Regions from separate parts of the Homo sapiens genome. Here region 2 is linked to region 1. The links come from fine-mapping of genetic effects on gene expression. Tissue or cell type: cerebellum. Region 1 holds a variant in brackets; the other region holds the start of a gene. All regions are shown on one strand. Distances are from middle to middle.

What was found. PIP is the estimated chance that this variant, and not a neighbour inherited with it, causes the effect.
Region 2: it holds the start of ADCK1, and the variant in region 1 is fine-mapped to the expression of ADCK1 in cerebellum (GTEx, PIP above 0.99). The same link has a PIP of 0.9 or more in amygdala, atrial appendage, caudate, cerebral cortex, gastroesophageal junction and hippocampus.

What each region holds. Positions count from the first base shown.
Region 1 is chr14:77,903,791-77,911,894 of GRCh38, reverse strand. It overlaps ADCK1 (aarF domain containing kinase 1), which reads right to left. Exons shown (of 11, transcript NM_020421.4): 7 at 3,976-4,092. Among named protein-coding and RNA genes, the nearest start is that of ADCK1, 110 kb to the right of the region's middle. The variant G/A (reference allele first, on the strand shown) is at 3,946.
Region 2 is chr14:77,795,798-77,803,901 of GRCh38, reverse strand. It overlaps ADCK1 (aarF domain containing kinase 1), which reads right to left and starts at 3,793. Exons shown (of 11, transcript NM_020421.4): 1 at 3,732-3,793. RefSeq lists enhancers at 957-1,796, 3,178-3,257, 3,268-3,317, 3,391-3,929, 3,930-4,468 and silencers at 3,508-3,867, 7,573-7,622, 7,633-7,682.

The sequences.
Region 1 (8,104 bases):
ATTTGTGACCTCAGGTAAGTTATCTTCCCTCTCTGAGTCTCTGATTCTTCATCTGCAAATCTGAGACAATAAGACCTCCCTCATAAGTTGATAATGCAGAAAGCTCCTGGTACACAGAGCCAGGCAGTCAGTAAACATTAATGGTTTAAAAAAAAAAAAAAAGAAAGCTGGGGAGGTAGAAGAGAAAAAAATAGCCCAATGACAACAACAACAACATTCATCTCACTATCATTTTGGGGAACTTACTTAGCACACGCCAGGCACTGTGCAAAGCATTGTTTGTGCATTAACTCACACAGTCCTCACAAAATCACTTACTTAGAGATGGGTACGATAAAACAGAAAAATGTTTCTATGAAGTGATCCTTGATGTAAGCCAGAGAGAGAGGTGTTACATTCAGACACTGCCTTGGTGCAGAGCAATGCTTCTCAGATGGTGCTCCAGCTCCTCTGAGTAGTTAGTTACCAAGTGGCTCCAGGTTCCAGCAGCCCAAGGTATTGGGTTGGTGCAAAAAGAATTGTGGTTTTTGCAATGGCCCAAAATAAAAAACAAAACACACATTTACCTTTGCACCAACCTATAGATCCCTGGCAGGGAAATGGAGAAGGTAGAGGGGCAAGGACTTTGGAGTCATGCAGACCTGAGTTCAAACCCTGGTTCTACCCCTGCTAGCTGTGTGATACGGGGCAAGTTGTTTAACCTCTCTGAGCATTTGCTTTCTCATCTGTAAATAGGGTTAATAATATATACTGTATAGGAGAGCTGTAATGAGTAGAGATTATGTGTGTCATATGCCTGGCACATATTAGTTGCTTATAATTATTATTAGTTATTGTTTTTCCCCAAATAACTCTGATATCAGCTTGCCCCATTCTGCATGTCCACAAGAAAACAACCAACACTCTCCCCTAGGCCTGCCTGGTAGAGGCCAATCTAGGGTGTGAGGCTGGTTTGTTTACCCATTCACTAATTTAAGAATGTCTACCAAGGATCTGCTCTGCACAGACCACTGGCTTTATCTACAAGGTATCAAAAGAGCGGGGAGGCAGAAGCAGATGAGACCAGTCCTCAGAGGGTACGCCCTGCCCAGCTCCTACTGCCCAGCTCCAGCCTAGCTGCCCCCTCCGGCCAGGCACAGCACTCAGCCATAAGCAAACAACTACCCAGAGCGCACCTTTCTGTGTTTGCATTTGTTTGGAAAATCAACGTTGCCTCTGATTAAACACCATTACGGCTCTGGGCTCACTGGATCCAAAGAGATTAATGGACTTGAGGGTGTTGCTGGAATGAAAATGCCTCCACAGCTGGTAGTAAGTAAATGCCAGGAACCTGGCGGGGATGAGGCCTCTGGGATATTTCCTGATCAGCAGGCGACAGACCCTGTTTCCCTTTAAGGCCGTTCAGGAAAGGCCAGAGGTGGCCTCCCATCCCATCGAATCCCTTCGCCACTGGAACCAAAGACTGTATTCTGCTTGAACACCTCCCATGTACCACCCTAGAAGCCACCAGTGAAGGCAGCAGAGTCAGAAGCCCTGACTTGTGTTACTGGCCAAGTGACCTCAGGAAAGACATTTGCTCCCTCTCAGAACTTTTCACCCCATCTGTAAAATAGAAGGATGAACTCTTTTTCTCATCCCTTTCCCTCCAAGCAGCAGAACTCTTCCAGAAAAGTCCAATAGGCAGCTCACGCATTGGCAAAGCTGCCCTGGGTAAAACAGAGTGGTATCTGTTTCAGTGTAGCCTGCCCATATCCCACACACCCCAAGGCCCTTGAATGGGTTATTGAAGCACTGTTCCCTAAGTCAGGGGACAACAGCTTTCCTAGAAGGCCTGAGCCAGCCACAGAGAAACGTTCCCACCATGCTCCTGGCAGCAGCTCTGTGCACTTTGATGCGGCCCCTCCTTTGTGGCCTAACAGGAAGAGTGAAATCAGGGAGACTCAGGTCTCAATCCCACCTCTGCTAAGCTGTGTGACCTTCTCTCTCTGAGACTCTGATTCTTTGTCTGCAAAATGGAGACAATGAGACCACCCTCATAAGTTTATTATGGAGAAAAGGGCCTGGCACAGGGAAGTTAGGCATGCAATAAATGCTAATGGTAAAAGGAGAAAGAAAGAACAGAGCCCAAAGATAATATAAGGAAATCAACAACCACCACCCAGCTACTCTTCTGGAATGCTAGCCACACACCAGGCACTGTGCTTAGCACTGTTTGCACCCTAACTCACATAGTCTTCACAGCCCCTCTTAGAGGCAGATACTGACCCCATTTACAGCAGTCACATGGCCACCAGGAGGCCTGTGCAACCACCACACTCCCCTGCCACCCCCCTGGGCTCATCTGCTGAGCCAAGGTATGGCTTTCTCCTGTGGGCCAACTCCCCATTGGGACCACATGCTCACGCTCATCTTCATGCACTGCCTGTGGACATGGGGAGTGGAATAGAAAAGAGCATTCACAGCCAGGCGCGGTGGCTCACGCCTGTAATCCCAGCACTTTGGGAGATCGAGGCAGGCGGATCACCCGAGGTCAGGAGTTCAAGACCAGCCTGACCAATATGGAGAAACCCTGTCTCTACTAAAAATACAAAATTAGCCAGGCATGGTAGCGCATGCCTGTAATCCCAGCTACTTGGGAGGCTGAGGCAGGAGAATCACTTGAACCCAGGAGGCGGAGGTTGCAGTGAGCCAAGATTGCGCCATTGCACTCCAGCCTAGGCAACAAGAGCAAAACTCCGTCTCAGGGAAAAAAAAAAAAAAAAAAAAAGCATTTACCTCCACTGGGCGTGGCCCACTTCCTTCCTTCCATCCCAGAGGGCAGAACATGTTGCTGCACTCCCCAAAACCCTGAAGTGACTCCACAGTGCCTCAAGGTCACACCCAAGACCATTACTTTATCTCCCCACACACCCCAAGGAATCCTGCCCCAGCCCTGCCAAACTTCACCCATTCCCTTCCCCTTCTTGCAAAGCCACTCCCTGGAAAACTCCTACTCATCCTGCTGGGGACACCAACCTGTGGCAGGCCTCAGTGCCTCTTCCTCACTCTCCCTGGGGTTCTCCTCACACCCTCTCGCTGCCTGAGATACAGCAAGGATTTAGATGTGTGTCTGACTCTGATGCTAAGCTCTGGGGACTAGGTCTGGTCCCCCTGCGAGCCCCCATACCTAGCATATAGCAGACACTATTAAAATGATCAATGTTGAGCCTGGCCACGTGGCTCACACCTGTAATGCCAGCACTTTGAGAGGCCAAAGTGGGAGGACTGCTTGAGCCCAGGAGTTCCAGATTACAGTGAACTATGATTGTGCCACTGCACGCCAGTCTAGGCAACAGAGCAAGACCCCATCTCTAAAAACATAAAAATGAAATTATGAATGTTGTTGAAAAAGTACAACTCCACCCATTCCTGTGGGACCCTGTGCAACCAAGAAGCAGAAAGTGAGGGACAGGTCCTACCCACTGGCCAGTATTCCCTGGGACAAGGGGGATGGGAGGGGGGACACACAAAGCCCACCTCTTTTTTCCTGCTCTAGGAGGCTGATGCAGTTGGTTGCTGCTGTCCCCTTTTTGCCTGATCCCTTGAGATCTGGGAAGTGGGAAGGAGAGAGAAGGGCAGGAAGAGGGAAGAGACAACAGACAGGCCCCACAGAGCCAAAAGGATTAAGTCCCACTGATTTTGCATCATTGTTCTCTGTGGCCGCTTAGCTTTGTGGGGCTCAGATGGTACAAAGGAAAAGCAGGTAATGGCAGAAGGGGTTCAGCATGTCCCTGCAGGCCGCTGTGTGCACAGGGCTGGCCTAAATGACCTGAAAGAATCTTTCTTGCTCAAAGTTTATAATTCTCCAGACAATGGGCCCTATTAAAGACAAGGGGGCCAGACTCTGAGGCCTCACCTGGACACACAGGCACTTCCTGGGCAGCCTTGACCAAGCCCACGTTCCCC[G/A]GCACAGCAGCCCTGAGCTCTTGACCTCACCTCATTGACGTCGATCTTGTTCCTCTCCATGTAGTCTCTGTCATTGACCTGCCCGCCATCCACAAACTCCATCAGGAGGACCCGCTCCGTGGACAGGTCCCAGTGGATTCGGGGGACCTGGGATAGGAAGGGACAGGTCAGATGGTCTGGGGAAGCTGGGAATCGGGCAAGGATGACAATGTGGCACAGCGAGCCAGACAGCAACAGAGGCTCCTCCCAGAGCAAGGGAGAAGAGGCCCAGGAGGGACCTCAGCGGTGACAGTGGGGATGGGACAGCCAGGCCAAGAGGGAGGCTGGCTACTCCACCTCTGCTCAGCAGGCCTCCGCCCACTCCTTTAGATACCGGCTTTGCCAACTCTCCTCAGTGCCTTCTAATGCTGTTAAGAGCCAAAACTAAAGTTGGGACTTGGGAGGAAAATGTTGGAACACCTCACACCTGGGCATTGCTGTTAAGGATATTTCCTCTCCCCATCCCGCCACCAGGCCTACTTCGGACTCCTCCCTCTGCCTCCAATATTTCACCCAGGTAATGGGTGCATTGTGTGTATTGAGCAAATGACTGAGTTTTAACCAGATGATAAATTTTGTTTCTCATGCCTGTTTCCTGTAGGAAAACACGTTTCCTGGGGCAGACAACATTGGATATTAACCCAACATCTATTCCCAACCCTCCTCTTCCCTAGAGATGAAAAAAACTAAATACTGGGGCCAGGCGGAGTGGCTCACACCTATAATCCCAGCACTTTGGGAGGCTGGGGCAGGTGGATTGCTTGAGCTCAGAAGTTCAAGACCAGCCTGGGCAACGTGGCGAAACCCTGTCTCTACAGTAAATACAAAAATTAGCCAGGCATAGTGGTGCGTGCCTGTGATCCCAGCTTGGGAGGCTAAGGTGGGAGGATCGCTGTCAAAGCCAGTGTGCTGTGACCTTATACATCACACCACTGCACTCCAGCCTGGGCAACAGAGCAAGATCCTGTCTGAAAACAAACAAACAAATAAAAAACCTAAATACTTTCCTTGCCTGCTTTATAGTAGGTATGGCCATGTGACATAGTTCTGACTTATGAACAAAAATGGAAACCTGCTAGGGGATTCTGGGAAGGTTTTTATTTCCTTGATTTAAAAAAAAGGGGGTATTTGCATAGTGCTACTCTTCTTCCACTTCTCTTCTTGCCTCGAAAGTGAATGTGAATGTGACTGTTGGTGCTGTAGCAGCCATCTTGCAACAATGAGGAAAAATAAAAAAATTTAAAAATCTGAGAAGCCAGCTCTGGTACTGTTAAACCACCAAAACCATATGTCAGTAGGCAACCACTGCAAACCTTCTTGCTATGTGAAGACAACAAATTCTTTTGTTTAAGGCACTCTAAATGAGGCTTTCAGTTGCCTACAGACAAATGCATTACTAACATACACTCTCCAACCCTCTCTGACTCTCATAACACTCAAAAACCAAAAAGAGAACAGATTTCTCCAGGAGCGGGCAAGAGACTAGAATGCAACCAGGCTGCCATGTGAGCAAGGGACACCCACCAGTACCCCCACAGCCAGGAGGGAGGGGTTACTGGGCTTCCAGCATGCCGAGTTTCCCCCAAATTGTGAGGAGTTTATTTCCTCTTACAAATAAAGAAACATGGGCAGCTTTTTCAAATGTTTTGGAGAGTAAGATTTTCCTTTACCCTGACCACCCAAATTCATCTAGCAATAACATAGTGGCCCTCAAGTCAACAGACCTATTTCCTGTTCCTAATTCTGCTAATACTGTTGTGTCTTAGACTAGCCACTTAACTTCTTTACATCCCAGTCTTCCTCACTGGAAAGCAGAATTGTTTCTGCCCTATCTCAGTAAGGACCTCTGAGGATAAATGGGGGCTGTACATACAAGTGAAATGCTCTAGTTGGAACAAAGTTTCCACCAGAAAGCAAGGTGTTATTTTGGTTTGCTGCTTGACTGCGGTTTCTGCCATTTGAAAATCTGGGCCAATAGAGAAATCTGTGAAACTGATACTTTGAACTTAAAATTTAGACTTGCTTGGCATTTTTCAAAAAGTTTCTTTTTAAAAAAGTGAGTGCATGTTTGCTATTGTTGCTTTGTCGGTTTCTTTAGAGACAGGGTCTCATTCTGTCACCCAGGCTGGAATGCTGTGGCATCATCATAGCGCACTGCAGCCTCGAACTCCTGGACTCAAGAGATCCTCCTGCCTCAGCCTCTCAAAGTGCTGGGATTACAGGCGTGAGCCACCGTGCCCTGCCTGTTGTTTTTGTTCATGGCTTCCAAATGAATGGGACATATTTTCGGGTTAAATTCTTCCCTTGGGTTTGTTTGTAAACCTACCTTTGACAGTGGGCCCCTAAGGCTCTGGAGACAAGAGGTCAAATCTCTAGCCAGCCCCACCAGAGGCAGCTTAAAAAACAGCGAGGGGCTGGGCGCAGTGGCTCACGCCTGTAATCCCAGCACTTTGAGAGGCCAAGGAGGGCAGATCACTGAGGCTGAGGAAAGAGAATCGCTAGAACCTGGGAGACGGAGGTTGCAGTGGGTGAAGAATACGCCACTGTACTCCAGCCACGGTGACAGAGGGAGTGAGATTCCATCTCAAAAAAAAAAAAAAAAAAAACCAGCTAGGAAAGAGTCACAGGTGGAAACAGAAATCCCACAGGCTGGAGCTTCTCTGTGCTTGTGCATCAGGGTCCTGGGTGTACTGCGGTTTCCCCCTTTTTGGTCTCCCTGCAAACATCACCATTCCAGTCTAACCACAGAATGTGCCCCTTGCTTCTGCTGCTTAAATCTGAAATGACTAAAATATCAAACCTGGGAAACAGTGGAATTTGTCATGGGAGCTTCAGAACCACAGGTGCCCCTGGACAGACATAACATGGAAATGACTGCAAAATGCCAAACTGCTCCTGCTCAGTTAAAAAAGTGAGCTGCGCCTAAATCACCAGATGGGCAGGAGGACCTGGGGGTGTGGGGTGAAGTGAGCGCCCACATTTCCTGTCCTATGCTTCTTCCATCAAAGAAGGAAAAAATGAAAAAGAGAAATTTGAAAGAGTCAATAAGCACCCCGCACTCCCCCATCCCACCCCCAAACAAAGCAAGCTGAAACTCTAAGGAGCTCATGGCCAGGGTGCTCAGCGGCCCCACCAGCAGGGTCACACCCTGACCATTAGGACCCCTGGGTCCAGGTTCTACCTCTTTGCCACAGAGCAGAGGCCTCCCTCCTGTGGGCTCCTCCTGCCTCCCACACGGATGCCAATCTGGACCCCAAGAAGGAGGGCACCAATTAGAGAAGTTTTAGCCCAAGACCCTGGGCCTCAGCCTCACAGTCTGGCCCTGACCTCACATTTCTGCTTTGTTTCTATGCTTTGGTCAACATGCCCACGAAACAGGCTGCGCCTGGCTTGTCTGAGACAGTGCCCATCACCCTAGGCCCACAGTCCTCCTGGAGCCTGAGTCCAGCACAGCAGAAGGCCTGGAGACATGCAGTCAGACCGGCAGATTTGGAGTCAGGCTGCTGGCTGGAGCCCCGGCTCTGCCACCTAAAAGCTGTGTGACTGTGGGTAAGTTATATAACCTCTCTGAACACCAGTTTCTCCACCAAAAATATGGTGATAATGGTTACAGTGGAAGCACAACCCCACCTCCGCCCCCATTTCCCACTACTATGAGCAGAGTACTGGCACTCAACATGGAACCAGACACTAGCAGCTGCTGGAAAAAACATCGATTGCTCTTAGGACAGCCACATCGAGTTTCACAGAGGGCTCTGATACACACCAGGGCTGAGAGTTATGCTCTAGACGGTTCACTGGAATTCACAACTTCCCCACAGAGCAAAACCATATGGAGGGTGAACATGCAGGCTCTGGAGCAGGCTACCTCTATTCCCTCCCCTTAGTGGTAAGCCTTGTGACCCTGCCCAAAGGGTTGATAGCTCTGAGCCTCAGTCTCCCAACTGATGATATGGGGGTGATTATGGCACCTCCCTTGTGAGGCTGTTGTAAGAATTAAAGAATTAAAGAATATAAATCACTCTGCAAAAAAGAAGTTATATATTAATTACTATCCATCTGTAGTTCCTAATCTTTGAGATTCATGGGAAGTTATCATACTTCCCAAAAAGCATGCACA
Region 2 (8,104 bases), 110 kb after region 1:
CACTCATTCCAAGTATTCAGCCCTTCTCTTTATGACAGGTAACGTCTTTGATAGGAACACCTGGACTCCTGTTCACTAAAGTCCTTACTGCTGTTCTCAAGTAAATGCAACTGTTGCTGTGGGCAGAGACTATGATTTCTGACCCAGTGCCAGGCATGTGGGAGGCACTGTTTGGAGCCCCCAAAATCAACAGGATGTCACAAGATCAACCAATGCCTCCCACTAGAAACAAGCCATTTCAGTCTATCAAATGTTTAGGAGAGCTGCAAAGCTGACATGGCTGTTTTATTGTCAAATCAATGACAAGAATGGAATCCATCTCGCTGGACCACAGGAAACACCCCAGTAGGTTATGAAAATGAAGCAACAGGAGAGTCTGGGACGTACAAATGGGAAGCTGATGGTCACACGAAATGTCCGTCCCCTTGACAGAACTAAATGGGAAACCAAGCACTTACTGTTCATCGGAGTCAGTGACTAGCTAGGCCTTTTCAGTTTCCATCCATTGGCAGCCCTCTCCCTATGCTACATTTCAGGACTAAAGGCCTGGAATCACCTTTCCCTGTTTGGTGCACAAATGAGAATTACCACAGAGAAAAGGCACTTAGGTCTCTAGTTCCATGAAAAGTGACCATGGCCTCCTCCCATTTCCTAGAGAGACTATTATACCAATGAGCATTATTTCTTCTAGTCTGCCCCCAAAACTGAAAAAAGACCCAAAAATACCCTTGGAGAGAGTGATAGGGTCTTCAGAAGAACCTGGTCCCTGATATGGATAGAAAGCACACAAAGTGAATGATACCATCATGCCTCAAGTCTGGAAAGATGCCAAAGACACCAAGTCAATAGCAAGGGACTGTGTGAAGTTGGCCTGAGCAGGTTTACAGTCTGCCCTCCCTAAGATAGTAATGTAGTCCAGGAACCAAATTGTATTTATTTATTTATTTTGAGATGAAGTCTCATTCTGTCGCCCAGGCTGGAGTGCAGTGGCGCAATCTCGGCTCACTGCAAGCTCCGCCTCCCGGGTTCCAGCCATTCTCCTGCCTCAGCCTCCTGAGTAGCTGGGACTACAGGCACCCGGCACCACGCCCAGCTAATTTTTTTGTATTTTTTTTAGTAGAGACGGTGTTTCACCATGTTAGCCAGGATGGTCTCGATCTCCTGACCTCGTGATCCGCCCGCCTTGGCTTCCCAAAGTGCTGGGATTACAGGCGTGAGCCACCGCGCCCGGCTAGGAACCAAATTTTAATCAAACTCCCTTTCCTAGTGTTTGATGCCTAAGCACTCAAGGTCCTTAAATCAATGTTGATTAAATAAAGGAATCCCGGGAGGCTGAAGCAAGAGAATTGCTGGAACCCGAGAGGCAGAGGCTGCAGTGAGCCAAGATCGTGCCACTGCACTCCAGCCTGGGCGACAGAGCAACACTCTGTCTCAAAAAATAAAAAAAGGAATCCCTGACTGATGCCAAGGTCCCAGAATAGACAACAAAAATAATTCTCACCCAGGCAAGGAATAGAAATCCTCCATTCAGTCCATCCTAGGAAAGGCAGACTGAGGGAGAATAGGGCAAAGCCAGATGCAAAGAGCAAGCAGCAGGTAAGAGAAGAGAGTGAGCTTCCAACGGGAGAGCTACAGTACCAAGCACTTATTAGCTCATTAACTCACACAACCAGATTCCGAGGTGCATGCTATTAGAGCTTCAATCTATGGATAAGGAAGTGGTGTTTTAGAAAAGGTAGAAAACTTGGCCAAGGAGCTGGTAAGTGATGGAGGCAGAACTTGAATCCATGTATGACTGCTCCCACCAAGAGAGCAAAAAGTGCACAAGAACAAGCAGCTTGCTGGGCCCTGAAATAGGCCACTGGAGTCCCTGCAACATGGAAACCTTAACCCAGGAGGCATATTTAGTGAGTTACCCTGGTGAAGAAATGGATGGCTGACCCAACTAAATTTTTTTTTTTTAGACGGAGTCTTGCTCAGTCGCCCAGGCTGGAGTGCAGTGACACGATCTCGGCTCACTGCAGCCTCCGTCTCCCGGGTTCAAGCTGTTCTCCTCCTCAGCCTCCCAAGTAGCTGGGACTACAGGCACACACCACTACGCCCAGGTAATTTTTTTGTATTTTTGGTAGAGATGGGGTTTCACCATGTTGGCCAGGCTGGCATTGAACGCCTGACCTCAAGTGATTCGCCCACCTCAGCCTCCCAAAGTGCTGGGATTACAGGTGTGAGCCACCGCACCCGGCCCCAACTAATATTCTTACAGGTCCTTTGTCTGACAAGAAAATGACTGCATAGCAGAAAGTAAGAATATGCACACTCTTCTAGTACAGATCAAATCGCACATCCCTGAGGCCAGTTGAGAAATGGCCAAGCAAAGAATGACCCAATAAGGTAGAATATGATGTAACCAGGAAAAATGACAAGTATAGACTACATTAAAATCTGTATATAAATTAATATGGAGGGAGTTAACAGTGTACAAAGTAATATGCACATATTTACAATCACCAAAAAAGTAAAACTGGCAAATAAAGACAGAAAGACCCGTAACCAGGTGTGAAGAGATAGTGCTTTAAGTTCACAGGATTTTTTTTCCTATAAAGCAGTGGTACTCAACGTATGGTCCCCAGACCAACAGCAACTGCATCACTTGGGTGCATGTTAGAAACGCCAATTCTTGGTCCTCATACCAGACTTACAGAATCAGAAACTTTGGGGATGGGGTCCAGTACTGTGTGTTGTTACTAGCTCTCCAGGTGACTCTGGTGCATGCTAAAGTTTGAGAACCACTGTAGTAAGAAAATTATTTTATTTATTTTCCTTTTTTTCTTTTAATACAGACGGGAGTCTCACTATGTTGCCCAGCCTGGTGTTGAACTCCTGCCCTCAAGCAATCCTCCCATCTTGGCCTCCCAAAGTGCTGGGATTACAGGCATCAGCCACCACATCCAGCCCCAAGAAAATTATTAAATAAAACATATGAAGCCACAGATAAAGTCTAATTCACTTCAACTCTGCAAATATTTCTTGAGCACCTACTAAGTGCCAAGTATCATGGAGGTAAACAATAAATACTTGTTGAATGACTTTCTTGTTAGTAGAAAGTAAATGCCACTTAACCCTGGGAGAGGGCTGTTCTAGGTGTCTTATCTAAAGGTTGCTCTCCACACACACTGGCTGCTGTTAGCACATATCTACTGTGTGATCTGGAAGCCCAGGGCCCTGCAAGATGCTGGAGATAAGCAGCGGTCTGGGGCACGTTCGCAAGACCGGGTGGAGGGCCAGGATATGGGCATCGCCCCCTGCTCTTGCCCAGACCACGCTCCAGCTCCAGCTGCTTCTGCCTCGGAACTCACAGGGCCACCAGGGGGTGAAGGCGTCTGGGTGAGCCACCTCCGGCCCTCCTCCAGCTCTGCCCACTCGGGTGCCTGCAAGACTGTGCCACTGAAGTGGACAGGTCACATGAAAGCCCACTGGTGTGCCAAACTGGAGAAGTCACTGCAGGGGGGCGGGGCAATGCGAGTCACCCGAGCCACGTGGCCGCGCGCCGGGCCCAGGTGACAAGGTCATGGGGCTGTCCCTCCCGGCGCCCAGGGCGGCTGCACAACCGGAGCAGAGGCCGACTCCCGGCGTGTCCATGCCGGTTCCCTCGCGCTCCAGGCGCGGTGCGGCCCTGCCAGGCTGGTCGGCCCGAGCTCTGCGCCGGCCTCCGGCGAGCTGCCCCTACTCACCCCGAGGGAAGCAGAGCCGCGGCGCCCGGCTTCCGGCCGCAACCCGGTAGCGGGGAATTAGCTGGGAACCGTGCGGGGACAGCCACCTGACTGCGCTTAGTGAAGCCGAGGCGCGCGCGGCCTGCCGGGACTTGTAGTTCCTGGTTCCCCACGCCGCGATCCCGCGGGCAGTACTGTGGAGGCACAGGGGTCTCGGGCTTACTCCGTCAGGTGGCCTTGTTGCTTTGCCAGGGCGACGGACTTGGAATATTACTGAAATATTTTCTTCAAGACATTCTAACTACGTCCCAGGTTCGTGTTTAATGAAAGATGAAGTGGATTTGTAGATTTTTTTTTTTTGAGACTGAGTCTCGCTCTGTCGCCCAAGCAGTACAGCTAATTTTTGTATTTTTTTTAGAGATGGGGTTTCACCATGTTGGCCAAGCCGGTCTCAAACTCCTGACCTCAAATGATCCGCCCGCCCAAAGTGCTGGGATTACAAGAGTGAGCCACTGCGCCCGACCTCGTAGATTTTATTCATTCATTCATTCATTCATTCATTCATTTTGAGACAGAGTCTCACTCTGTCGCCCAAGCTGGAGTGCAGTGGCCCATCTCGCCTCACTGCAACCTCCGCCTCCCGGGTTCAAGTGATTCTCCTGCCTCAGCCTCCTGAGTAGCTGGGATTACAGGAGTGTGCTACCACGCCCTGCTAATTTTTTGTATTTTTAGGAGTGACGGGGTTTCGCCATTTTGCCCAGGCTGGTCTTGAACTCCTGAACTCAGGCAATCCACCCGCCTTGACTTCCCAAAGTGCTGGGATTACAAGCCTGAGCCACCTCACCGGGCCATAGATTTTAAATAAGATATTGGAACTAGTAGGCGAAGAAGAAATTTACTGACAATTGATGTATGCTGGCGGGGCGGTGGCTCACGCCTGTAATCCCAGCAGGCCAAGGCTAGCAGATCACCTGAGGTCGGGAGTTTGAGACCAACCTGACCAACATGGAGAAACCCCGTCCCTACTAATAATAGCAAAAATTAGCCAGGCCTAGTGGTGCATGCCTGTAATCCCAGCTACTCAGGAGGCTGAGGCACTAGAAACCCGGGAGGCAGAAGTTGCGGTGAGCCGAGGTCACGCCATTGCACTCCAGCCTAGGCAACAACAGCGAAACTCCGTCTCAAAAATAATAATAATAATGCTGGCTGGGCAGGACGCAGTAGCTCACACCTGTAATCCCAGCACTTTGGGAGGCTGAGGCGGGCAGATCACCTGAGGCTAGGGGTTGGAGACCAGCCAGGCCGACATAGTGAAACCCCATTTCTACTAAAAATAGAAAAATTAAGCCGGGTGCGGTGGCTCATTCCTGTAATCCCAGCACCTTGGGAGGCCAAGGTGGGCGGACCACTTGAGGCCGGGAATTTGAGACCAGCCTGGCCAACATAGTGAAATCTGTCTCTGCTAAAAATACAAAAATTAGCCTGGTGTGGTGGTGCACGTCTGGAATTTCAGCTACTCAGGAAGCTGAGGCAGGAGAATCGCTTGAACCCGGGAGGCGGAGGTTGCAGTGAGCTGAGATCACGCCACTGCACTCCAGCCTAGGCAACAGAGTGAGACTCTGTCTCCAAAAAGAAAAAAAAGAAAAAGAAAAATTAGCCCAGCATAGTGGCGGGCACCTGTTATCCCAACTACTCGGGAGGCTGAGGTGGGAGAATTGCTTGAACCCAGGAGGTGGAGGTTGCAGTGAGCTGAGATTGGGCCACTGCACTCCAGCCTGGGCAACAGAGCAAGACTCGTCTCAAAATAAATAAATAAATAAATATAATATGCTAGCTAATCTTAGTTATCTTTGGCCCTTATTCATTCATTCACTGATCTCCATTATCAAATGTTGACTTATAAGATGCACTTTGAAGACATGTATCAAAAACATTTCTCTTTTTTTTTTTGAGACAGGGTCTGGCTGTGTTGCCCAAGCTGGAGTGTAGAGGCTCCATCACTGTAGCCTCAACTTCCTGTCCTCAAGGTACCCTCCTGCCTCAGTCTGTGGAGTAGCTGGGACTACAAGCACATACTGCCACGCCTGGCTAAATTTTTTAAATTTTTTCTCAAGAAAAGCTGGGGGGTGTGGTCTCACTATATTGCCCAGGCTGGTCTCGAATTTCTGTGCTAAGCCATCCTCTGGCCTTGGCCTCCCAAAGTGCTGGGATTACAGGTGTGAGCCACCACGCCAGGCCTCAGACGTTTGTTTATTCTATAAACATCTCTTGAGCTATTTTTTTCATGGGGGAATTAATCTATCAGTCCAATGCAGTTCCAATCAAATTTCCAACATAATTTTTTCTGGACCTTCACAAACTAATCAAAAGTGTGTATGAAAAAACAAAGGGCAGCGCAGTGGCTCGTGCCTGTAATCCCAGCACGTTGGGAGGCTAAGGCAGGTGGATCAGTTGAGGTCAGGAGTTCATCACCAGCCTGGCCAACATGGTAAAACCCCATCTCTACTAAAATACAAAAATTAGCCAGGCATGGTGGTGCACACCTGTAATCCCAGCTACTCAGAAGGCTGTGGCAAGAGAATCCTTGAACCCGGGAGACAAATGTTGCAGTGAGCCAAGATCATACCACTGAATTCCAGCCTGGGTGACAGAGCGAGACTTTGTCTCAAAAAAAAAAAAAAATACAAAAAACAAAAAAAAACCACCACTTTAAGGCAAAGCATAGCCAAAACATTCTTGAAGAAGAAAAATGTGTTTCAAGGACGCACCCTTCCATGTCAACATGTATTATAAAGCTATACAAATTAAGACCATGTGATATTGGAATAGGGAAAGGCAGAGGGGGAAATGGAACCACCTACAGAGCCCAAACATGCAGGCATCTATGAAATGAGGTATGGCTGGAATTATAGTTCAGTGAGGGAAGATAGAGTATTCAGTACATGGGCTGGAACAACCAGTTACCTGTTGGATCCCCTATGCAAAAACTAATTCAAGGTAGGTTAAAGACTTACAGGGGAAATTAAAGCATTTTAAAATTACAACTTTTTTTTTCTTCTTACTATCGTTCCCCAAAATTATAACTTTTACAAGAAAAGAAAACATCCTTATGATCTCAGGGTAGGGTTTATTAAGTGCCATAATCACAAACTGTAAATAAAACTTTGATAAATTTAAACTACATTAAATTTAAGCACTTGTCTTTATTGAAAGACAGCATAGACTGAGCACAGTGGCTTATCCCTGTAACCACGACAGTTTGGGAGGCCAAGGCAGGAGAATCGCTTGAAGCTGGGAGTTAGAGACCAGCCTGAGCAACATAGCCAGACCCTATGAGATTACAGAAAAATTAAAAATTAGCTGGGCATGGTGGCGCATGCCTGTAGTCCCAGCTACTCTGGAGGCCAGGGAGGGAGGATCTTGAGCCCAGGAGTTCAAGGCTGCAGTGAGCTTTGATGAGTCTTGCCACTGCACTCCAGCTGGGCAACAGAGAGAGAGCTAAACCCGGTCACTAAAAAAGAAAAAAAAAGATAATTGCAGCACAGAGGTAGCAGTAGTATAGAGTTAAATAACACAGCCCCCACCATCTAAAGTTTGCAATGTATAGGCATTAAGATAAGAAGATTGATAACTTCCAAATAATGTGAGAAGTGTTAAGATTGAGGTATGAACAAAGTGGCTTAGGAACAGAAAAAAGGGAGCATTAGGCCAGGTGCAGTGGCTCACACCTGTAATCCCAGCACTTAGGGAGGCCAAGGCAGGCAGATCACTTGAGGTCAGGAATTCCAGCCCAGCCTGGCCAACATGGTGAAACCCCGTCTCTACTAAAAATACAAAACTTAGCTGGGCGTGGTGTCACACGCCTGTAGTCCCAGCTGCTCTAGAGGCTAAGGCAGGATACTCGCTTGAACCTAGGAGGCAGAGGTTGCAGTGAGCCGAGATCATGTCACTGCACTCCAGCCTGGGTGACAGAGCAAGACTCCATCTCAAAAAATAATAATAAATTAAAAATAAAATAATAATAAGGGCCAGGCACAGTGGCTCATGCCTAAAATCCCAACTACTCAGGAGGCTCACGTGGGAAGATAACTTGAGCCCAGAAGGTCAAGGGTACAGTGAGGCATGATTGCACCACCACCGCATTCCAGCCTGGGTGACAGAGAAAAACCCAGTCTAAAAAAAAAAATCACCTGGAGAGCTTTAAAAGTCTTCCTGGGCCATAGCTGGCACTAGCACCCCTTCAACTACTGGGAATGGGACTGAGTCATAGGTATTTTGTAGAGCTCCCTGTAGGATTTCAATGCACAGCTGAGGTTAAAAACCCCGATTTAGAGTCAAAGAATCTTATTTGAACTGGGTGACTCACAGCAGGTTTTCTAATTTTGGCAGAGCTT